Regions from separate parts of the Homo sapiens genome. Here region 1 is linked to region 2. The links come from fine-mapping of genetic effects on gene expression. A gene starts in region 2. The other region holds a variant in brackets. All regions are shown on one strand. Distances are between the middles of the regions.

Region 1 (15,557 bases), 34 kb after region 2:
CACTGCACTGTCAACCACACCATCTGTGAAAAGAGGGAGGGAAATTTCCCAAAGACAGATGGGAGTGCTCTTCCTAAGAGGGGCTGAATGGGAGTCAGTGCGGCAGACTCCATCCTCAAATCGGTCTCAGGATATATGGAGTCTCGCTCTGTCACCCAGCCTGGAGTGCAGTGGCGCCATCTCGGCTCACTGCAACCTCTGATTCCCGGGTTCAAACGATTCTCCTGCTTCAGCCTCCCAAGTAGCTGGGATTACAGGCGTGCGCAACCAAGCTCAGCTAATTTTTGTATTTTTAGTAGAGATGGGGTTTGGCCATGTTCTCCAGGCTGGTCTCAAACTGCTGACCTCAAGTGATCCACCCGCCTCAGCCTCCCAAAGTGCTGGGATGACAGGTGTGAGCCACTGCACCCGTCCAGGTCTCAGGATGTTAGAGAATTTAACCAGCAGTGACCTGGTCCGTTCCATCCTGCTGTGGATGGGAAGTAGAGCTCTGCTCACAGCTGTGGCCCTACCCTCCCTCTGCAGACTTGGCAGTGGATCAACCCAGTGGACTTCCAGGAAGAGGCATCCCTGCAGGAGGCCCTGGTGGTAGAGATGTCCTGGGACAAAGGCGAGAGGACTGAGCCTCTCGAGAAGACAGAGCTACCTGAGGGTGCCCCTGAGCTGGCCCTGGATACAGAGTTGTCCTTGGAGGATGGAGACAGGTGCAAGGCCAAGGTCCTGGGGCCCAGTGGGCCAGACGGTCAGGGGTGCAACCCTGCCCGGGGGGTGGGGGGGCTAGACATCCATCGCTCCTGGGATATCAGGGCCTGGAGGCCTGAGGGAGAAACGAAAACATCCACTTTGTCTTACAGACACGAAGAGCGACTATCTCAATCACAACGGCTGGTTATTAAGCACTTATGGCATACCCAGCCCATTCCATCCACTCACATGATTCCCTACCAAATCCCTACAACCACCCCCTGAAAGGAACCATGACTGTTGTACTTTACAGATGTGATCGTTGAGGCTCAGAGAGGGTGAGTGACTCGCCCGAGGCTACGTAGCACACACAGGAGTCACATTTGGACCCAAATAACCCAGAGCTCCTCCAGGCTCCAGTGCACCTGCCTCCTCTCTGCCCCGTGCCTGTTGCCACCCATCCTGCGGGGGAACCCTAGATGCTGCCATGAAATGGAAGCTGCTGCACCCTGCTGGGCCTGGCATCCGTGGGGCAGGAGCAGACCCTGCCATTTACCTGTTCTGGCGTAGAATGGACTGGGAATGGGGGCAAGGGGGGCTCAGATGGATCCCTGGACCCTGGGCTGGGCATCCACCCCCAGGAGCACTGGATGGGGAGTCTGGACTCAAGGGCTCCCTGCAGCATTGCGGGGTCTTGTAGCTTGGAGGATCCAGGCATATAGGGAAGGGGGCTGTAAACTTTGTGGGAAAAATGACGGTCCTCCCATCCCACCCCCCACCCCACCCTCACCCCCCTATAAAATGGGGGTGGTGATAATGACCTTACACAGCTGTTCAAAATCATCGTAAATGAGCCTCCTCTTGGGTATTTTTTTCCTGTTTGAAGCTTGAATGTCCTGCTCAAAATCTCAAAACACGAGCCTTGGAATTCATTCATTCATTCATTCATTCATTCCACATATATTTATTAATCTCTTCCTCTAGGTCTCCTCCAGGAGCACCTAATCCGGGGGAGACAGAGCCGGATGAGAGCTTGGAACCCTACTAAGTTAGGACTGAGCAGGGGAAGGGACGGCCTAGGGGGAGTGGAGCAGCCGGGCACTCCGGTAACAGGAACCGTGGTTTGCCCCCACGCTCCTTCCTCCTCACGCCCACCAACTCGCAGCAGGACCCTTGCCCCCCTTACACACCCTGAATCCTCCCTCTTTCTGCCCACACTGCCCCACCTCCCTCGCGTTCTGCAGCCGCCTCCCCCTGATCCCCACTGCGGTCTGAGCCGAGGTGTGGGGGGGGGCTCCTGAAATCCCACCCCAGCCCTGGCGATTAGCGGGTAGTCCAGATTCTCCCCATGGCCACCAGGTGGCAACAGCGGCGCGCGTTTCCCCGGCCGGGCCCGCCCTGCCTCCTCCCACCGCGTTTGCTAAACAGACTTTTCCGGTTTCAGACAGAGGAGGGGAGTTAAAAAGCCCAGAACTACTGAATTTTGTGGCAAAAAAAGGATGAGACCTCTCGGGGAGAGACCCCTGGCAGCCAATAGGGCCAGGAGGCAAGAGGCCCAGGCCCCGCCCCTTTGGTCTGGGGGCCTCCCTTTCCCCATCGATGCATCTAGATAGGGAAACAGAGGCCTGGATCTCGGTGCCCCAGCCACACGGTGGCTGGTCAGAGTTCTGCAAATGCCCCCCGCCCCGCTCCGGATCTGCCACATCCCAGCTTCTGCTCAAGCCGTTCCCTCCACCAGGCATGCCCTCCCTTGAGCGTTTATCCTCCTTTCTTTTTTCTGAGACGGAGTTTGGCTCTTGTTGCTGGAGTGCAATGGCGCGATCTTGGCTCACGGCAACCTCCCGGGTTCAAGCGATTCTCCTGCCTCAGCCTCCCAAGTAGCTGGGATTACAGGCGCCCGCCACCCTGACCAGCTAAAATGTGTTTGTATTTTTAGTAGAAACAGGGTTTCACCATGTTGGCCAGGCTCGTCTTGAACTCCAGACCTCAAGTGATCCACCCGCCTCGGCCTCCCAAACTGCTGGGATTGCAGGTGTGAGCCCTGGAGGCCCCTGGAGTTGGCTGCAAACCCACCCCTATGCACAGTCCCTTGGGTGCGAGAAGTAGGAGACAGGCAATGTTTACTGGCAGCAGCTGGGACTTTTGCCAGAGTGCATGGGGAAGATGCACACCCTGCTTCCACTAGCGGGAGACTGAGCTGGACAGAGGGAAGCCTGGAGCTTGGAGCCTCTTTCCTTCCTACCGTGGGGATGCCTGTCTGAGAGAGGAGCCTGCAGGGAGGACAGCAGCACCGAGATGAAGCATTAGTTCCTGGATCCAGCCATACCTGAAACCCAATATTTTCCATCTGGTTCCTGTTTTTAAAAAATATTTTAGGCCGGGCATGGTGGCTCACGCCTGTAATCCCAGCACTTTGGGAGGCAGAGGCGGGCTGATCACCTGAGGTCAGGAGTTTGAGACAAGCCCGGCCAACATGGTGAAACCCCGTCTCTACTAAAAATACAAAAATTAGCTGGGCGTGGTGGCAAGCGCCTATAATCCCAGCTACTTGGTAGGCTGAGGCGGGAGAATCGCTTGAACCTGGAAGGGGGTGGTTGCAGTGAGCCGAGATTGTGCCACTACACTCCAGCCTGGGCGACAGAGCGAGACTCCGTCTCAAAAAATAAATAAATAAATAAATAAATAAATAAATATTTTTTTTTATTTTTTGTTTCTTTTTTGAGACAGGGTCTCACTCTGTTGCCCAGGCTGGAGTGCAGTAGCACCATCTTGGCTCACTGCAACCTCCACTTCCTAGGATCGAGTGATCCTCCAGCCTCAGCCTCAGGCTCAAGCCTTGTTGCCAAGGTTTTGCCATGTTGCCCAGGCTGGTCTCGAACTGCTGAGCTCAAATGATCCACCTGACTTGGCCTCCCAAAGTGCTGGGATTACAGGCATGAGCCACTGCACCCGGCCTCAGTTCCCTGTTTGATGAAGCCACTTTGAGTCCTTCTTCTGTCCCTAGAAAATGACCAACAGGAGGTTCTTTCTGGGCCTCTGCTTACCCGTCTATAAAATAGGAAGGGATTTGGAGTCCTTTTCTCAATGGGCCCAGCAAGTTTGCTTAGCTGGGCCCTGGCCTGGTATTTATTGAGCAACTGCTATGCAACTATTACTCCAGGGCTCCTCAGAGCAGCCATTGCCTCAGCTTCTCCCAGCAGCTCCAGGAGTCAGGATGGTGTTAGCCCCCATTTCACAGCTCAGTTTCATTCATTCATTTAAGAAATCAGGGTC[C/T]GGCGCGGTGGCTCACACCTGTAATCCCAGCACTTTGGGAGGCCAAGGCGGGCCGATCGCTTGAGCTCAGGAGTTCGAGGCCAGCCTGGCCAACATGGTGAAACCCCGTCTCTACTAAAAATACAAAAATTAGCCAGGTTTGGTGGCACATGCCTGTAGTCTCAGCTACTTGGGAGGCTGAGGGCTGAGGTGGGAGAATCACCTGAACCTGGGGAGGTCAAGGTTGCAGTGAGCTGAGATCGCGCCACTGCACTCCAGCCTGGGTGACAAGGTGAGACCCTGTCTCAAAAAAAAAAAAAAAAAAAGCCAGCATTGAGTGCCTACTGTATACCAGGCCCCATCTTGCACAAGTCAGGATCTTCCTGGTCATAAGGGGCTCTTAGCTGGGTGGGGAAGGCAGACACTAATCTAATTATCACTCAGAGAGTTATGAGAAACCGTAAGAGTGATGAGTGGGGATGTGAGGAGTAGCCAGTGAGGGAGGGCTTCCTGGAGGAGGCAATGCTAGGACCAAGGTGGTAAAGAGGGGCCAGAAGAGGGAGTGCAAAGGCCCTGAGGTTGCTGGTGGGGAATGGACGGGGGATGGGGGAAGAGGTTGTAGCCCACGTGAGGCTGGGGGCATATGGACCAGAGCTGTTTTTTTTCTTTTGAGATGGGGTCTCGTTCTGTCGCCCAGGCTGGAGTGCAGTGGCGTGACCACAGCGCACTGCAGCCTCGACCTCTCGGGCTCAACTGTTCCTCCTTCCTCAGCCTCCTGTGCAGCTAGAACCACAGGCACGTGCCACCACGCTCAGCTTAGTTTATTTGATTATTTGTAGAGACAGAGTCTCACCATATTGCCTGGGCTGATCTCAAACTCCTAGGCTCAAGTGATCCTCCTGTCTTGGCCTCTCAATGTGCTGGGATTACAGGCGTGAGCCACTGTACCCGTGGGCTAGGTTTTTTTTTTTTTTGAGATGGAGTCTCGCTCTGTTGCCCAGGCTGGAGTGCAGTGGCGCGATCTAGGCTCACTGCAAGCTCTGCCTTCCGGGTTCACGCCATTCTCCTGCCTCAGCCTCCCGAGTAGCTAGGACTACAGGCGCCCGCCACCATGCCCGGCTAATCTTTTTCTGTTTTTAGTAGAGACGGTGTTTCACCATGTTGGCCAGGATGGTCTCGATCTCCTGACCTCGTGATCCGCCTGCCCCGTCCTCCCAAAGTGCTGGGATTATAGGCGTGAGCCACCGCGCCTGGCGGGCTAGGGTTTTATTCTTGGGTTGTGGGGTCCTGGAGCTGGAGAGTCAGGTCCTGACGGGTGAGAGGTTCAGAGTTTATTCTGGCTGCAGTTCAGCTGGGAGTAAGTGATTCATCTTGTGGGCCTCAGTTTTCTGGTCCATAAAATGGATGTGGTCAGGCAGCCTCTCCAGAGCCCCTGCCCCTCTTCCCACCTCCCCTCCTCTGTCTCTGTCTTTCCTGATCCATCTTTTCCCTTCTCCATGGCTCCCACCTACTGGGTGGGAAGCGTGTCTCCATCAGAGAGATAGGCTGCCTCAGTTTACCTTCCCAGGTACCTTCCTTCTCTATCTCTCCAGTAGCCTCTGGGTTTGGTCAGAAACAGATGTTGTCTCTGCCTCTGCCCTTCAGCCGGGATGGGACTGAGGTGTCAGGTTTCTGGGAACCATGAGCTGCAGGAGATGACCCCTGGACTCAGGGTAGCCCCTGGCCTGGCCCCTGATACTTTATTATCTGTGCCCCAGATGCCAGGCCCTCTGCCCAGGAAGGCCCTTCTTCCAACTCTGCCCTCTGCCCATTTCTCTCTCTCTCTTTTTTAACTCATTTCTTTCATTTAAAAAAAAAATTTAAAGTAGAAACAGAGTCTTGCTATGTTGTCCAGACCAATCTTGAACTCCTGGGCTCAAGCAATCCTCCTGTCTCAGCCTCCCAAACTGTTGAGATTATAGGCACGAGCCACTGAGCCCCAGCCTTATTCCTCTTTTTTTTTTTTTTTTTAGATGGAATCTCACTCTGTCGCCCAGGAGGCTGGAGTGCAGTGGCGTGATCTCGGCTCACTGCAACCCCACCTCCTGGGTTCAAGCAATTCTTCTGCCTCAGCCTCTGGAGTAGCTGGGACTGCAGGCACCTACCACCAAGCATGCATGGCTAATTTTTGTATTTTTGCTAGGGACGGAGTTTCACCATGTTGGCCAGGCTGGTCTCAAACTCCTGACCTCAGGCGATCTGCCCACCTTGGCCTCCCAAAGTGATGGGATTACAGGCGTGAGTCACTGCGCCCGGCCATTCCTCCTTTTTTAAGATACATTCACACACCATACAATTCACCCTCTTAAAGTGTACAGTTGACACTGAGCGTGGTGGCTCATGCCTGCAATCCCAGCATTTTGAGAAGCCGAGGCAGGAGGATCACTTGAGCCCAAGAGGTTGAGGCTGCAGTGAACCGTAATTGCACCACTGCACTCCAGCCTGAGTGACAGAGTGAGACCCTGTCTCAAAAAAAAAAAAAAAAAAAAGTACAATTCAGTGGTTTTTGTACAATCACAAGGTTGTGCAGCCATCACTCATACCTAATTCTAGAACATTTTCATCTCCCCAAAAAGAAAACCTGTGCCATCAGTAGCCACTCCCCGTTCCCCTCCCCCAGCCCCTGGCAGCCACTAATCTGCTTCCTGTCTCTATGGATTTGCCTGTTCTGGGCATTTCATATCAATGAAATCATACAATATGTGGCCTTTCTGTCTGTTCTTTTGTGAAAGAAACTCAGATGTTTTTGAAACGCATCCTCATTATAGTGTGTGTCAGGGTTTCGTTCTTTTTGATGGCTGAATAGCATTCCATTGTGTGGATGTGTCACTATTTATTTATCCACTCAGCCATCAATGGACATTTCGGTGGTTTCCATTTTCTGGCTATTGTGGATAGCGCAGCTCTGAGAGTTTGTGTACAAGTTTTGGCGTAAACACCTGTTTTCAGTTTTCTCCGTATACATCTAGGAGTGGAATCACAGAGTCATATGGTAATTCTGTGTTTAACTTCTGGAAGATCTGCCAAAGTTTTCCACGTCAGCTGTACCATTTCACATTCCCTCCAGCAAGGCATGGGGGTTCAAATTTCTCCACATCCTCATCAACACTTGCTATTTTCCTTTTTCTTTTCTTTTTTTTTTTTTTTTTTTTGAGACAGGATCTCACTCTGTCACCCAGGCTGCAGTGCAGTGGCGTGATCTCGGATCACTGCAACCTCTGCCTCCCGGGTTCAAGCGATCATCCTCGTGCTTCAGCTTCCCAAGTAGCTGGGATTACAGGCTCTTGCCACCATGCCCGGCTAATTTTTGTATGTTTACTAGAGACAGAGTTTCACCATGTTGGCCAGGCTGTTCTGGAACTCCTGAGCTCAAGTAACCCTCCCACCTCAGCCTCCCAAAGTGTTGAGATTACAGACGTGAGCCACTGCGCCTGGCCTCCTTTTTCTTCTTATCCTTCTCCTTCTCCTCCTCCTCCTTCTTCTTCTTTTTGATGTTCTGATGCCAAGGCTGGAGTACAGTGGCGTTATCTTGGCTCACCACAATCTCTGTCTCCCAGATTCAAGCGATTCTCCTGCCTCAGCCTCCCAAGTAGCTGGGATTACAGGCGTTAGCCACCATGCCCGGATAATTTTTGTATTTTTAGTAGAAACAATGTTTCACCATGTTGGCCAGGCTGGTCTTGAACTCCTGACCTTGAGTGATCTGCCCGCTTCAGCCTTCCAAAGTGCTGGGATTACAGGCGTGAGCCACCATGTCTGACTGGATTATTTATCTTTTTGACCCTTATCAGATACAAAATTTGCACATATATTCTCCCATTCTGTGGGTTGTCATTTTTTTTTTTTTTTTTGAGATAGAGTCTCCCTCTTTTGCCCAGGCTGGAGTGCAGCAACGCAATCATAGCTCACTGCAGCCTCGAACTCCTGGGTTCAAGCGATCCTCCCACCTCAGCCTCCCCAGTAGCTGGGACTATACAAGCACACACCACCACACCTGGCTAATTTTTAAATATTTTTTGTATAGACAAGGTCTCATCTCACTATGTTGTCCAGACTGATCCTGAACTCCTGGACTCAAGCGATCCTCCTGCCTCAACCTCCCAAAGTGCTGGGATTACAGGTGTGAGCCACTGTGCCAGGCCTCTCTTAATAGTGGCCTTGCAGAAGAAAAGTCTTGCATTGTGTGGAGTCGGGTTGATCTATTTTCCTTTGCTGGCTTGTGCTTTGGGTGTGCTACCTGAGAATCCTCCTGATCTTGATAAACCCCTCTTGCGGGCACCTCTCCCCATCCTCCCCGCCCCCAGCCCCCACCTCTGGCCTGTCCCTCCCCCCTCCTCCCCTCCCCACCTCCCGCCCCGGTTTGGGGCACTGGCCTCTGGCTCTGTCCCCGATCCATCAATGTTTAATAACTGAGTGGACAGAACCTTGGCGGAGACGTGGAAACCCCGCCCGGCCCCATGCGCGACGCGCCTCCACGGGCTGTGCCGCGATCACGCAGAGCCCCGCTTTCCAGGTGGGGAAACTGAGGCACCGGAAGATTGGGATGGGGACGCGACCTGCCTGGTCCCAGTGGTCGGGGCCACGGCCAGGCTTCCTCCCCGAGTCCTCCCCACCTTCCCTGGCCTGGAGCTGCTCCTGGCTCCCGTCCCCGCCCTGGGCTGACCCTGCCAGCGGGAACCGCCTGCTCCCCGGGGCGGTTCCTGCCGAAACCAAAATACCCAGGAGGAGGAAAAAAAAAACACCCGCCGGGCGGGCTGGGGGTGGGGGACGGGAAGAGGGGCGGGTTTCTCCTCCGGGTTGGAGACTGGAGGGGCCAAGGGTCACACAGTCAGTCGACAAACGTCTCAAGGATCCAGCCGAGTCCTGGCTCTGCTTCCAACTGCCTGTGCAGCCAGGGCTTCTCCGAGCCTCAGTTTCCCCATCGGTGCAATGGGGTAGTTAACCCCCCGGGGAGGCCTATGAGAGGTGAGAAGGAGCTAGGTGAACGAGGTGCCCAACCCTCCAAGATATCATCACCTTTAATAATATTAAACCTTATGTGCTGGGATCAGGAGCTCCAGGCAGGGGGCTCCTCTGGCCGGGTAGGAGGGCCCTCTTCTCCCAGTGGCTGGTCTTGTACCCCTAACCTCTTTTTTTTTTCTTCTTAACCAACTAAACAGGAGTGATCTTTATTTTATTTTATTATTATTCTGAGACGGAGTTTTGCTCTCCTTTCCCAGGCTGGTGCGATCTCGGCTCACTGCAATCTTCACCTCCCAGGTTCAAGCGATTCTCCTGCCTCAGCCTTCCGAGTGGCTGGGATTACAAGTGCCCGCCACCATGCCTGGCTAATTTTCATTTTGTTTTATTTTGAGACACTGTCTCTGTCTGTCACCCAGAGGCTGGAGTGCAGTGGTGTGATCATAGCTCACTGCAGCCTCCTGGGCTCAAACAATCCTCCCACCTCAGCCTTCCAAGTAGCTGAGACCGCAGGTGTGTGCCACCAAGCCCAGCTAATTTTTGTATTTTTTGTAGAAAGAGCACTCACTCTGCTGCTCAGGCTGGTCTCAGATTCCTGGCCTCAAGCAGTCCTCCCATCTCAGCCTCCCAAAGTGCTGGGATTACAAGCATGAGCCACTGTGTCCTGGCCCCACCCCCAGCTTCCTATTTCCTTCCTCCCTCCCTGTCTCTCCCTATCTCTCATTTCTCATCTCTTCCTGTCTCTCTGTCTCTATTTCTCTGACTTGCTTTTATTTTTTTTTTTAATTTTTTTTTTTTTAATTTTTTGAGACAGAGTCTCACTCTATTGCCCAGGCTGGAGTGCAATGGCGTGATCTTGGCTCACTGCAACCTCCACCTCCCAGGTTCAAGAGATTCTCCTGCCTCAACCTCCCAAGTAGCTGAGATCACAGGCGTGCGCCACCCTACTATGCTAATTTTTGTATTTTTAGTAGAGACGGGGTTTCACCATGTTGGTCAGGCTGATCTTGAACTCTCTGGCCTCAGGTAATCCGCCCTCCTCGGCCTCCCAAAGTGCTTGGATTACAGGAGTGAGCCATCGCACCTGGCTTGTCTTGCCCCTCTTTGTCTCTTTCTCCCTGTGCCCCTCTCTCTCTATCTTTGTGTTTTGTCTCTCTGTCTCTCTCCTTGTCTCTTTCTTTGCCATCTTTTTTTTTCTTTTTCTTTTTGTAGAGATAAGGGTCTCATTATGTTGCCCAGGCTGGTCTCTAATTCCTGGCCTCCAGCAATCCTCCCCCCTCAGCCTCCCAAAATATTTGTGTCATCTTTCTCTTTATCTCATTTCTCATCTCTCTCCCTGTCTCTCTCTCTGTCTCTTTGTCTCATCTCTCTGTCTCACTTCTGTCTCTCTGTCTCTGTCTCCCTGTGTCTCCCTTTCTCTCTTTCCCTGTTTCTCTGTGTCTGTCTCTCTGTGTGTTTCTGTCTCATCTCTCTCTGTCTCTGTTTCACCTGTCTCTGTGTCTCCCTGTGTATCTCTCTGTGTCTCTGTCTCTCACTGCCTCTGTCTCTCCTTGTTTCTCTGTTTATTTGTCTCTTTTTTTACTTTTGGAGACAGAGTCTCGCTCTGTGGCCCAGGCTGGAGGGCAGGGGCACAATCTCTGCTCACTGCAACCTCTGTTTCCCAGTTCAAGTGATTCTCCTCCCTCAGCTTCCTGAGTAGCTGGGATTACAGGCCCCCCACCATGATGCCTGGCTAATTTTTGTATTTTTGTAGACACGGGGTTTCACCATGTTGGTCAGGCTGGTCTCGAACTCCTGACCTCAAGTGATCCACCCGCCTCGGCCTCCCAAAGTGCTGGGATTACAGGCGTGAGCCACTGTGCCCGGCCCCACTTCCATTTTTAGGTGGGGAAATAGGGGCTTATTCCTGAAGAGTCTCGTGCAGGTGTCCCAGCCCCAGTGGCATCATGGTCACCCTGGTCCAGCTGCTGGGCTCTGTGGCTCTCCGGCTGTCCTGGGCCTCCCATTCTAGGGGCCTGTCCCATAAATGGTCAGCCCAGAAGGTTCCACCCTCACATACTGGATGGTGACACCCCCACCTCCCAGAGCTAGTTTTCCAGCAGGCAGTCTGGCGGGAAGCCCAGGCCACTTCCCCGTGGTGTTGGCTGCTGCCCGGTGCAAGCCGGGAATGGGGACCGGAGGTGACGTTTAGGGCTAGGCTTTGGGCTCAGGTTTTTTTTCCTCTTCCTTTTTTTTTTTTTGGTATATAAACTATTTGTTTTTTTGCGACAGTCTTGCTCTTTCGCCCAGGCTGGAGTGCAGTGGCATGATCTCAGCTCACTGCAACGTCTGCCTTCCGGGTTCAAGAGATTCTCCTGCCTCAGCCTCCAGAGTAGCTGGGTCTACAGGCGTGTGCCACCACACCTGGCTAATTATTTGTATTTTTAGTAGAGACAGGGTTTCACCGTGTTAGCAGGATGGTCTCAATCTCCTGACCTCATGATCCGCCCACCTCGGCCTCCCAAAGTGCTGGGATTACAGGCGTGAGCCACCGCGCCCGGCCATAAACTATTTATTAACAGATAAGGCCTACAGACTTATTTCTTCTTGGATACACCCACGGTACAGGTACGGCCATGGCGGCCAATGGTCTCGGTGTGCTGGCCTCAGACATGAAGGCCCCAGAAGTGGTGCATCCCTCTATGGGCCGGAATCTTCTTCGGTTGCTCCAGGTCTTCACGGAGCTTGTTGTCCAGACCACTGGCTAGGACCTGGCTATATTTTCCATCCTTTACATCCTTCTGTCTGTTCAAGAGCCAGTCTGGGATCTTGTACTGCTGTGGATTCTGCACAATGGTGATCACTCATTCCATCTCATCCTCCGTGAGTCTCCCGCCCTCTTGGTGAGGTCAATGTCTGTTTTCCTCAACACCACATAAGCGTATCTTCCATCCACACCTTTAATGGCAGTGATAGCAAAGGCTATTTTCCACCACCCATCGATGTTGGTGTTGAGTACTCCCAAAATATGCTGGAACTTTTCAAGGATCACTAGAGACACGGTGGCAGGCTCTGGGGTTCCATACCAGGCACCAGGATCATATTTGGGGTATGGAAGCCCCACATTGCCCTCATCCTCTCTGGCTTTCGTCATGGGGGTGGTGGGCATGAGGAGGAAGGGACCCAGGCCTTTGGCATGAGGTTCCCTTCTTCAGCAAGCCCCCCACTTCCTGGATCGCTGGGGACCCCCAGCCCTGGGTACCTCCCTCCAGCCTAGCCTTGACCCTGTGGGAACAAGAATATCTCTATCCAGCCTGGACCTTCCCAAGCTGGGGCCTCGAGCATTACCCCAAATAAGGCAGGCACCTGGATGTGGCCAGGAATGAATGAACATGAATGAACAAATGAATCGTATATAATCTTACAAACTCAGAAACGTAAGGCCATACAAATCTAAATCTGGCCAAGGTTGGTGGCTCAAGGCTGTAATCCCAGCAGTTTGGGAGGCCGAGGCTGTAGGATTGTTTGAGCCCAGGAGTTCGAGACTAGCCTGGGCAATGTAGTAAGATCCTGTCTCTCCAAAAAATTGAAAAAATGTAGCTGGGCATGGTGGCAGGTGCCTGTAGTCCCAGCTACTCAGGGAGGCTGAGGTGGGAGGATCGCTTGAGTCCAGGAGTTTGAGGCTGCAATGAGCTATGATCATGCCAATGTACTCCAGCCTGGGTGATAGAGCGAGACCCTGTTTCTAGAAAATAAATAAGTTTTGTTTGTTCATTTGTTTGTGATGAAGTCTTGCTCTGTTGCCCAGGCTGGAGTGCAGTGGCAGGATCTCGGCTCACAGTAACCTCTTCCTCCTGGGTTCAAGCGATTTCTCCTGCCTCAGCCTCTGTAGTAACTGAGATTACAGGCGTGCGCCACCACACCTGGCTAATTTTTGTATTTTTAGTAGAGACGAGGTTTCGCCATGTTGTCCAGACTGGTCTTGAACTCCTGACCTCAAATGATCTGCCCACCTCGGCCTCCCAAAGTGCTGGGATTACAGGCGTAAGCCACCGTGCCTGGATGATAAGTAAATATTTTTTTACATTAAAAAAATGCCTAAACCTGGATTTTTAGCACGTTGCAGGGGGCTCCCACCCAAGCCCAAGTTCTCAGAAGCTGGGAAAGGAATAATGCATCTCGGGGTGGAATGTTTGATGACCCCCAGCAGAGTGCCATCTCAAGAGCAGGGGTCTAGAGCCAAGGCTCAGGGTTCTAATCCTGCCTCTGCCTGGAAAACCACTTCGCCTATATGAGCCTCAGTTTCCCCATCTGTAAAACAGTGTTGGTACCCATGTCTTGGGGTTTGGGGTTAGTAAATGAATCTGTGGGAAGCCGAGTCAGGCCTATCGGTGTCTGTAGGTGGTGGAGCCTCTTCCCTCTGACAGGGATGGAAATTATAGAGATAAAATCAAAGAGAGGCCGGGTGCGGTGGCTCACGCCTGTAATCCCAGCACTTTGGGAGGCCAAGACAGGCAGATCACTTGAGGTCAGGGGTTCAAGATCACCCTGGCCAACATGGCGAAACCCCGTCTCTACTAAAGATACAAAAATTAGCCCAGTGTGGTGGTGTGTATCTGTAATCCCAGCTACTTTGGAGGCTGAAGCAGTAGAATTGCTTGAACATGGGAGGTAGAGGTTGCAGTGAGCAGGGATCGTGCCACTGCACCCCAGCCTGGGTGACAGAGTGAGACTCTGTCTCAAAACAAACAAACAAACAAACAAAGAGAGAGATGGAAGGTCAGGTTGCATCAGGAGGAAGCTGGCAATCTCTGTGACTCAGGGAGGTGCGGGGGCTCCCTCCTGGACCCTGGTCACCTCTGAACGTTCCACTGGTTTCTTCCAGTTTCTCCTTTACTGAGATCCCTCTGTCCCCAGAGTCTCAGTTTCCTCCCTTGTGAGATGGGCTCACACTGGTGCCCCTGAATCTTCTTCCTCCACCCATCCACCATCAAAATTGCTCCCACATCCGATCCCTTCTCATGAAGGTCCCTTCTCCCTGGTCCAGACTATCATTGCTCCTTAGGACCAGCAGTGGCACCCCTCTGTGGTCTCCTCGCTTCTCCCTTTATCCCCCACAGATACCCCCACCCTGGTATCCTGAGTCCGGCTTGTCCTTCTTCTGTCTAGAAGCCTCTGTGGCTCCCACCTTCCTCAGAGTAAAAGCCAAAGTTCTCCCCCCAGACCTCAAGGCCCTGCTTGGTCTCACGGCACCATCGCCTCTTCCCTCCCCACCCTGCTTAATCGACTTAGGCCACCTCAGCCTCCTCCAAGCTCCTCCGGTGAGTCAGACAGGCTCCTGCCTCGGGGCCTGTCTAAAGGCTGTGCTTTCCCGGGGACCATCTTCCCAGAGACGCCCATATGTCTCCCCTACCTCCTTTGGGTCTCAGTTCAATTGTCATCGTCACCCACACTCTCTCTCCCTCCTCTGCCATCAGGAATTTGTATCTCTGCCAGGCGCGGTGACTCATGCCTATAATCCCAGCACTTTGGGAGGCTGAGGTGAGCGAATCACTTGAGGTCAGGAGTTCAAGACCAGCCTGGCCAACATGGTGAAATCTCATCTCTGCTGAAAAATACAAAAATTAACTGTGTGGTGGTGGGAGCCTGTAGTCCCAGCTACCAATCCCAGCTACTTGGGAGGCTGAGGCGGGAGAATCACCTGAGCCTGGGAGGTGGAGGTTGCAGTGAGCTGAGATTGTGCCACACTGCACTCCAGCTTGGGCAACAGAATGAGACTCCGTCTAAAAAAAAAAAAAGAAAGAAAAAAAAAAGAATTTGTATCTCATTCATGGTGGTGTCGCTGGCTCCTGTACACAGCCGGGGCTTAATGAGTGTGCTCACAGATAATAATCTTATGCTGATAAAAAGAAATGTTTCCCCAGATGCCTGCTGTGCTTTAGGCCCTGGGCTGTGGTCTGGGGACACAGCCGGGGACAACTGAGAGCAATCTTGCCCTTGTAGGACTCATGGTCTGGGGACAAAGGTGGGACCCAGAGGACATTATGCACCTGAAGCGATGCATCTGTAATGTGGAATCAGGTGTTGAAAAGTGTGATGAATAAAGTAGAATACATGACCAGATGCAGCAGAGGGAGGGTGTTTCCTGATCAGGCAGTCCTGGAGGGCTTCCTGGAATAGGCGACATTTGGGGCCAAGGCCTGAATGAAGAGAGGGACATGCCCCTTTGCAGCAGCTCTGGTGGCCATGTGTTTCTCACTAGTTCACAGATAAGGAAACTGAGGCTCAGAGAGGTGAAGTCACTTGTCCAGCATCCCCAAATCCAAACTCCCCAGCCAGGAGCCTGCAATCCCCTTTCCCCATGGTGCCCAGTTGCAGATGGGCAAACCAAAGTCCAGAGCAGCGCCTCCACACCCCAAGGTCTCCCAGGAAGCTACTCGGCCCTCCTCCACCCTCCTTCTCCTCCCCCGCGCAGCTTTACTGGGGGACTTTCTCACAGGGAGGAAAAACAGCGACAGCTGGTTTCACAAGTAGGTGGCCCAAGCCGCAGACCGGTTTCGGTTTGCAAACAACTTCTGGCTCTGACTGCCTGCTGCTGGGCTGAGCAAACCCAGAGGTAAGAGCCCCGTATCAATCCATAAGAG
Region 2 (8,000 bases):
CTTTAGCCTGGCGCTCGAGGCCCCAGCCCATCACCCCACAGAAACCCAGACCCACTGTGTCCATCTTGGTGGTCCCCAAAGCACCTCCTCTGGACTTTTGCCTCTGCTGTGGCCTCTGCCGGAGATGCCCTGTAATTCTATACATTCTAGCTCAAGTGTCCCTCCTCCAGGCAGTCCTCCCTGCTCCACTTCAGGGCACCCGGCCTCCATCTGTTCCTGATCCCAAGGGGCTAGGGGCGTCTGTGTCCAGCTTTTCACCTCCCCAGCCCTGTATCTCCCTCCCTCGATGTTTTTCCAGCAGCTGCCAGGCAGAGGCCACTGGGGAACAACAACAATGACTAATCACACTGGCCAGCGGGTGGACAGCGCTCACTGCAAGCCAAGCCCTCCTTCATACTCACAAAAGCCCATTTTGCAGGTGGGAAAGATGAGGCCTGAGAGGGCCAACCTTGGTGCGGGTGGGGGAAGCCCTGAGGCACGGTCTCCACTCTGGAAGGGGCAAAACTATACTCCACAAGGGGTGGTTTGAATCCATCTCTTCATCTCCAGCTGGGGCCTCAGGTGGTCTGAGTGCCCCTGGACTCAGTTTCCCAATCTGTGAAATAAGGCAAGTGAGGGACTCTCCAGGAATTGGTGGAGTTGGGAGGGTCTCAGGATGGTCAGGAGGGGGCCATGACTTTCCTCTGATCTCTACCTATTTCCTCCACCTTTCTTGTTATTTTTTGAGCAGGGTCTTGCTCTGTGGCCCAGGCTGGAGTGCAGTGGCGCAATTAGAGCTCACTGCAGTCTCGACCTCCCTGGCTTAAGCCTCAGCCTCCCAGGTAGCTGGGACTACAGGCACCTGCCACCATGCCCAGCAAATTATTTTTTGTAGAGATGGAGTCTCACCATGTTGCCCAGGCTGCTCTTGAACTCCTAGCCTACAGCAATCCTCCTGCCTTGGCCTCACAAAGTGCTGGATTACAGGCATAATCCACCCTGCCTGGCCTCCTCCATCTTTATGTATCTCTCTATCTCTGTCCCTTTCTCTGTCTCTGCCCCTCCCCCAGGCCTCACACATCCATCCCCCAGCTGACCCTGGCCTGGGCCCCGGGGCCAGAGAAGGCTGTCCTGTATGGGGTCACAGGGCCCCCGTCCCCACTGTGCCAGGCCCAGGACACTGAGTCTTTGTCCCTAACTCACTGACCTCATAGCCTGCTGGGCGCCTGACCCTGGCCAGCTCAGCTGCCCCTCGGAGCCAGGCTTCTTGAAGGAGGGACCTCCTCCCAGGAAGCTGAACCGCATTGCACAACCCTGGCCACTTGGGCCTCAGTTTCCACAGATGCTCATCCCCAGGAGAGACCCTCTCCTTCTCCCTCCTCAGTGCCCCTGGACTCTAAGAATATTTCTTTTTTCTGTAGATGCATCTCACGTAACCTAAAATTCATCTTTTTTTTTTTTTTTGAGACATAGTCTCACTCTCTCACCCAGGTGGGAGTGCAGTGGTGTGATCTCGGCTCACTGCAACCTCTGCCTCCCGGGTTCAAGCGATTCTCCTGCCTCAGCCTCCTGAGTAGCTGGGATTACAGGTGCATGCCATCACGCCCAGCTAATTTTTGTATTTTTAGTAGAGACTGGGTTTCACTGTGTTGTCCAGGCTGGTCTCGAACTCCTGACCTCAAATGATCCACCTGGCTCGGCCTCCCAAGTGCTGGGATTGCAGGAGTGAGCCACCGCGCCCGGGCCGGAAATTCATCATTTTAAAGCAAACGATTCAGTGACATTTAGCACATTCAGTGTTGTGCAACCACCACCTCTATCTGGTTCCAGAACATTTGCATCACCCCAAAAGGAAACCCCGCATACATCAGCAGTCACTTCTCACTCCCGCCTCCCCCCAGCCCCTGACAACCACTCAGCTACTGTCTGCCTCTGTACATTTGCCTATTTTGGATATTTTATATAAGTGGAATCATACAGTGTGTGCCTTTCCTGTCCATCTTCGTCCACCCAGCATGATGGGTTTTTTTTTTTGTGTATGTGTGTTTTTTTTTTTTTGAGATGGAGTCTCACTCTGTCACCCAGGCTGGAGTGCAGTGGCACGATCTCAGCTCACTGCAACCTCTACCTCCCAGGTTCAAGTAATTCTCTCTGCCTCAGCCTCCCGAATAGCTGGAATTACAGGCACATGTCACCAGGCCTGGCAAATTTTTGTATTTTTAGTAGAGACAGGGTTTCGCCTTGTTGGCCAGGCTGGTCTCAAACTCCTGACCTCAGGTGATCCGCCCACCTCGGCCTCCCAAAGTGTTGGAATTACAGATGTGAACCACTGCACCCAGCCCAGCATTATGTTTTTGAGGGTTCATCCACATGGTAGCTTGGATCAGAGCTTCTCCACTGACATTTAGAGGCTTTGCCGACAGTGGGGAGGGAGGGGCAGGAAACAAAATACTCAGAGGCTAAGAAATGGAACATGGGGGAAAGACTAAGTTGCATCTCTTAAATTTTTTTTTTTTTTTTTTTAAGAGACAGGATCTTGCTCTGTTACCCAGACTGGAGTGCAGTGGCACAATCACGATTCACTGCAGCCTCAACCTCCTGGGTTCAAGCCATTCTCCCACCTCAGCCTCCTGAGTAGCTGAGAATACAGATGTGTGCCACCACGACTGGCTAACTTTTAATTTATATATATATATATATTTTGAGATGGAGTGTCACTCTGTTGCCCAGGCTGGAGTGCAGTGGCGCGATCTCGGCTCACTGCAACCTCCACCTCCTGGGTTCAAGCGATTCTCCTGCCTCAGCCTCCTCAGTAGCTGGGATTACAGGTGCCTGCCACCACACCCGGTTAATTTTTGTATTTTCAGTAGAGACAGGGTTTCACCATTTTGGTCAGGCTGGTCTCAAACTCCTGACCTCGTGATCCACCTGCCTTGGCCTCCCAAAGTACTGGGATTACAGGCGTGAGCCACCGCGCCTGGCCTAATTCTTTATTTTTTATAGAGATGGGGTCTTGCTATGTTGTTTAGGTAGACCCAAACTCCTGGGGTCAAGTGATCCTCCCACCTCGACCTCTCAAAGTGCTGGGATTAGAGGGGTGAGCCCAGGTGCACAAGGCTGGAGCTTGGCATGTGGGGAGGTGGGCATTGTGGAGGGCCAGCATGCTGCAAGCTCTTTGTAACAATTTGTTGGAAGGATGAAATTAGGCCATCCAAGAACACTGCCCTCCTTCAGCTCTTGAGTCTCAGATTCAGAAGCTGGCGAGATGGCCCGGTGCGGTGGCTCACGCCTGTGATCCCAGAATTTTGGTAGGCCAAGGCGGACGGATCATTTGAACCCGGGAGTTTGAGACCAGCCTGGGCAACATGGCAAAACCCCCTCTCTTAAAAAAAAAAAAATGCAAAAATTAGCTGGGCGTGGTGGTGCATGCCTGTAGTCCCAGTTCCTGGGGAGGCTGAGGTAGGAGGATGGCCTGAGCCTGGGGAGGTTGATGTTGCAGTGAGCCGTGATTGCACCACTGCACTACAGCTGGGCCACAGATCAAGACCCTATCTCAAAAGAAGAAAAAAAGAATTTGGCAGCCAGGCACGGTAGCTCACGCCTGTCATCCCAGCACTTTGGGAGGCTGAGGTGGGTGGATCACTTAGGGTTAGGAGTTCGAGACCAGCCTGGCCAGCATGGTGAAACCCTGTCTCTACTAAAAATACAAAAATTAGCTCGATGTTGTGGCAGTTGCCTGTAATTCCAGCTACTCGGGAGGCTGAGGCAGGAGAATTGCTTGAACCCGGGAGGCAGAAGTTGCAGTGAGTGGAGATCATGCCACCACACTCCAGCCCGGGCGACAGAGCAGGGCTCCATCTCAAAAAAAAAAAAAAAAATTGGCTAGAGAGGGCCAGAGACCTGGCCAAGTGCATGGAACCACAGGTGGCCCATGGGCCCATGGGGCTGGCATCTGGGTGTTCAGTTCAGGTCTGGGGCCAGCAGGGCAGAACCCCCTAGAACCCTGACTTGCTCCAAAGTCAGACTTGCTCCAGAGTCTGTGGCCGCCACCATCACCACCACCACGGAGCTGACTTCCTGGGTTTCTCTTTCACTTTGACTTGCCTTAGGGATGGGCTGTGACACTTTACTTTTTTTCTTTTTTCTTTTTTTTCAGTCTTTTCTCCTTGCTCAGCTTCAATGTGTTCCGGAGTGGGGACGGGGTGGCTGAACCTCGCAGGTGGCAGAGAGGCTCCCCTGGGGCTGTGGGGCTCTACGTGGATCCGATGGAGCCGCTGGTGACCTGGGTGGTCCCCCTCCTCTTCCTCTTCCTGCTGTCCAGGCAGGGCGGTGAGTCCCCTGACCCTGGCATGGCGGCTCCTCTTGCTGGGTGGAGGCACGTGTATGTGTGGAGAGCTGTGGGCCTGCTGTGTGGGTTGGTTTCATCTCTCTGTGCCTCAGTCTTTCCTGCTGTCAAATGGGAGATGGGCAGTCATGGCTTCTGGGATCGAACTTAGACATCTTTCCTCTGGTCTAGATTTTCTCTTCTGTGAAATGCACTAAATTTTTTCCACCTCCCGGAGTTCAATGAGAAAAAAAACTAAGGAAGGAATAAAAAGCAAGTATGTATCTAATAGGTATACATAGTATAGTATCTTATGTATGTAGTTTACAATAGATAGACATACATAATATAATGTATACAGTCATTTCCATATTTACGGGGCAATGGTTCCAGGACCCTCTGCAGATACCAAAATCCAAAGATGCTCAAGTTCCTGATATAAAATGGTAAAGTATTTGCATATAACCTATGCACATCCTTCCGTATACTTTACTTATTTATTTATTTATTTATTTATTTATTTATTTATTTATTTATTTACTGAGGTAGGGTCTCACTCTGTGTCCCAGGCTGGAGTGCAGTGGCCTAATCATAACTCATTGCAGCCTTGACCACCTGGGCTCAAGTGATCCTCCTGCCTTAGCCCCTTGAGTAGCTGGGACTGCAGGTGCACACTACCATGCCTGGTTAATTTTTTTGGTGTATACTTTTTACAGAGACAGCGTCTCGCTGTGTTGCCCAGGCTGGTCTCGAACTCCTGGGCTCAAATGATCCACTCACCTTGGCCTCCCAAAGTGCTCAGATTACAGGCATGAGCCACCATGCCCAGCCTTCCCATATACTTTTAATAATCTCAGGCCCTGCACGGTGACTCACTCCTGAAAATCCAGCACTATGGGAGGCCAAGATGGGTGGATCACTTGAGGTCAGGAGTTCGAGACCAGCCTGGCTAACATGGTGAAACCCCATCTCTACTAAAAATGCAAAAATTAGCCAGGCTTGATGATGGGCACCTGTACTCCCAGCTACTTAGGAGCTGAGGTGGGAGGATCGCTTGAACCCAGGAGGCAGAGGTTGCAGTGAGCCGAGATTGCAGCACTGCATTCCAGCCTGTGTGGCAGAGCAAGACTCTATCTCAATAATAATAATAATAAATAAACTTTCCTTCTCTGTACACTGGGGATCAGCGGGGTGCTGACTTTTTCAATGGCTCTTGAGATGCACTGAGTGCCTGTAGAATGCCCACAGCAGTGCTGGCCACACCTCAAGGTCCCAGCGCCTTCAGGGGCCAGGCATGGCTGGAGACCAGCAGCAGGGAGGGGGCGAGAGGCAGCCCACGAGGTATCCTGGAGATAGTGGCAGTGAGTGGTCAGTCCAGGGAAAGGGAAGGAGGATGGGCTTTAGGCTCTCAGGGGTGGGTGGGTGGGTGGGGGTTCTGTGTCATCACAGAGAGAGATGGAAGGATGGAGAGCCTTGTGTGTTAAGCATCTTTCCCCCCTCAAGGTTGGACACTTGGGGCTGTTTCCTGGGGTGCCGCCTTCTCCCCCAAGGCTTCCAATCTGCCTGCAGGGCTCAGGACAGGTCCTTCTTGTGGGAGTGAGGGCGCCGGGGTCTTCCTGACCCATCCATGGTGGCATCCCCCTCCTTCTCTCACCCAGTTCCACACCTAGCAGACTGTGGCAATCCCAAAGGGCACGGGGATCCCAGTGGCTGAGGGAGGTCGCTGCCTCCTGGAGAAATGTTATTAATAATTGCCCTGACTGCTAGTGGGCCAAGTGTGCTTGCCTGGGCCAGCCCTGGCAGGCCTCTCCCTGCCATGCACCCTCTACTGTCTTTCCCCATGCTGGCTTCAGACACTGGTGCCACCCCAGGCACACCTCCACTTCTCTCTGCCCTCCAGACTGTTGGTCTTACTGTTCTTTCCTGCAGGGGTACCTCCCGAGAGTGTCTCCCAAATATGCATCTCAACCTCTGAGGACTAAAGGGTGGTGGATGAATGGATAGACAGGTGGATGGGTGGGTAAATGAATGGATGGATGAATTAATAAATACATGTATGTATGTATGGATGGATGGATGGATGGATGGATGGATGGATGGATGGCTGGATGGATATATCGGTAGGTAGATAAATGGATGGATGGGTGGGTGTATGGATGAATGAATACGTGGATGGATAGATGGATAGATTGGTGACTAGATGGATAGATGGATGGTTGGGTGAATGGATAATGGATTAATGAATGCATGGATGCATGGATAAATACATGGATGGATGGATGGATGGATGGACTAATGAATACATGGATGGATGGGTGAATGGGTGGATGGTGGGATGGATGGATGGATGGATGGATGGATTAATACATGGATGGATGGATGAATGGACGAATGGACGGATAAATGGGTGGATGGTGGGGTGGATGCATGGATTAATACATGGATTGATGGATGGATGGATGGATGGATGGATGGATGGATAGATGGATGGGGGGTGGATGGATGGATGGATGAATACGTGGATGGATGGACGGATGGTGGGGTGGATGGATGGATGTATGAATACGTGGATGGATGGATGGTGGGGCAGATGGATGGATGAGTAGATGGATGAATGAACACATGGATGGATAGATGGATGGGTAGATGCGTGGATGGATGGATGAATACATGGATGGATAAATACATGGATGGATGGGTAAATGGGTGGATGGTGGGGTGGATGGATGGATGGATGGATGGATGGATGGATGGGTAGATGGGTGCATGGATGGATGAATACATGGATGGATGAATACATGGATGGATGGGTGAATGGGTGGATGGTGAGGTGGATGGATGGATGGATAGATGGGTGGATGGATGAATGAATACATGGATGGTTGGATAGATGGATGGGTAGATGAGTGGATGGATGGATGAGTACATGGATGGATGGATGGGTAGATGGGTGGATGGTGGGGTGGATGGATGATGGATGAATACATGGATGGATGGATGGATGGATGGATGGATGGATGGGTGAATGGATGAATTCATGGGTGGATGGATGGGTAGATGGTGGACGGATGAATAAATACATGGATGGATGGGTAGATGGGCAGATAAATACATGGGCAGATGGATGGATGGGTGGTGGTAGGAGGGTGCATAGATGGGAAAGTGGGTGGGTGGGAGGGCTGATGATCACTTGGGTGTAGACCCCAAGGCTGAGCCCTTCTCCCCACACAGTGCAAGGCCAGGAATGTCATTATGTCTTCATTGCCTTTGCAGCTGCCTGCAGAACCAGTGAGTGCTGTTTTCAGGACCCGCCATATCCGGATGCAGACTCAGGTTCGGGGCAGTTCCTCATTGTTGGCTGAGGATTATGTAGGGCTCTGCCTGACCCCATCCACAGCGGCCCCTCCCATGGCCTCCACCACCAGGCCAAAGACCCAGCCCTGCCTGTGGTCTTGGGAGTCCCCACCCCACCACCTGCTGGCCCATTCTTACCAGGTTCAAGTTGCCCTGGAGTAGCCAGCCGCCTCTCTGAACATTATCACTTCCCTAGCATGGTCTCAGGGCTGGTGTCTGTGTCCGTTCAGATTGGTCGGTACATGGGAGAAAGTACCTGTTAAGCATTTTGAAGCCCCCCCCCCAACCTGATAAATTATTAGAACATTTATTTCATTTATTTATTTTTGAGACGGAGTCTTGT

The links.
Region 1: its variant is fine-mapped to the expression of IL12RB1 in whole blood (TOPMed, PIP above 0.99).

What each region holds. Positions count from the first base shown.
Region 1 is chr19:18,045,054-18,060,610 of GRCh38, reverse strand. IL12RB1 (interleukin 12 receptor subunit beta 1) reads left to right here. Exons shown (of 17, transcript NM_005535.3): 16 at 526-717; 17 at 998-1,616. The coding sequence ends at 1,003. It also overlaps the pseudogene RPS18P13. Among named protein-coding and RNA genes, the nearest start is that of IL12RB1, 34 kb to the left of the region's middle. RefSeq lists an enhancer at 8,543-9,044 and a silencer at 11,082-11,243. The variant C/T (reference allele first, on the strand shown) is at 3,958.
Region 2 is chr19:18,083,068-18,091,067 of GRCh38, reverse strand. It overlaps IL12RB1 (interleukin 12 receptor subunit beta 1), which reads left to right and starts at 4,134. Exons shown (of 17, transcript NM_005535.3): 1 at 4,134-4,308; 2 at 7,577-7,636. The coding sequence starts at 4,245. RefSeq lists enhancers at 3,803-3,862, 3,873-4,222.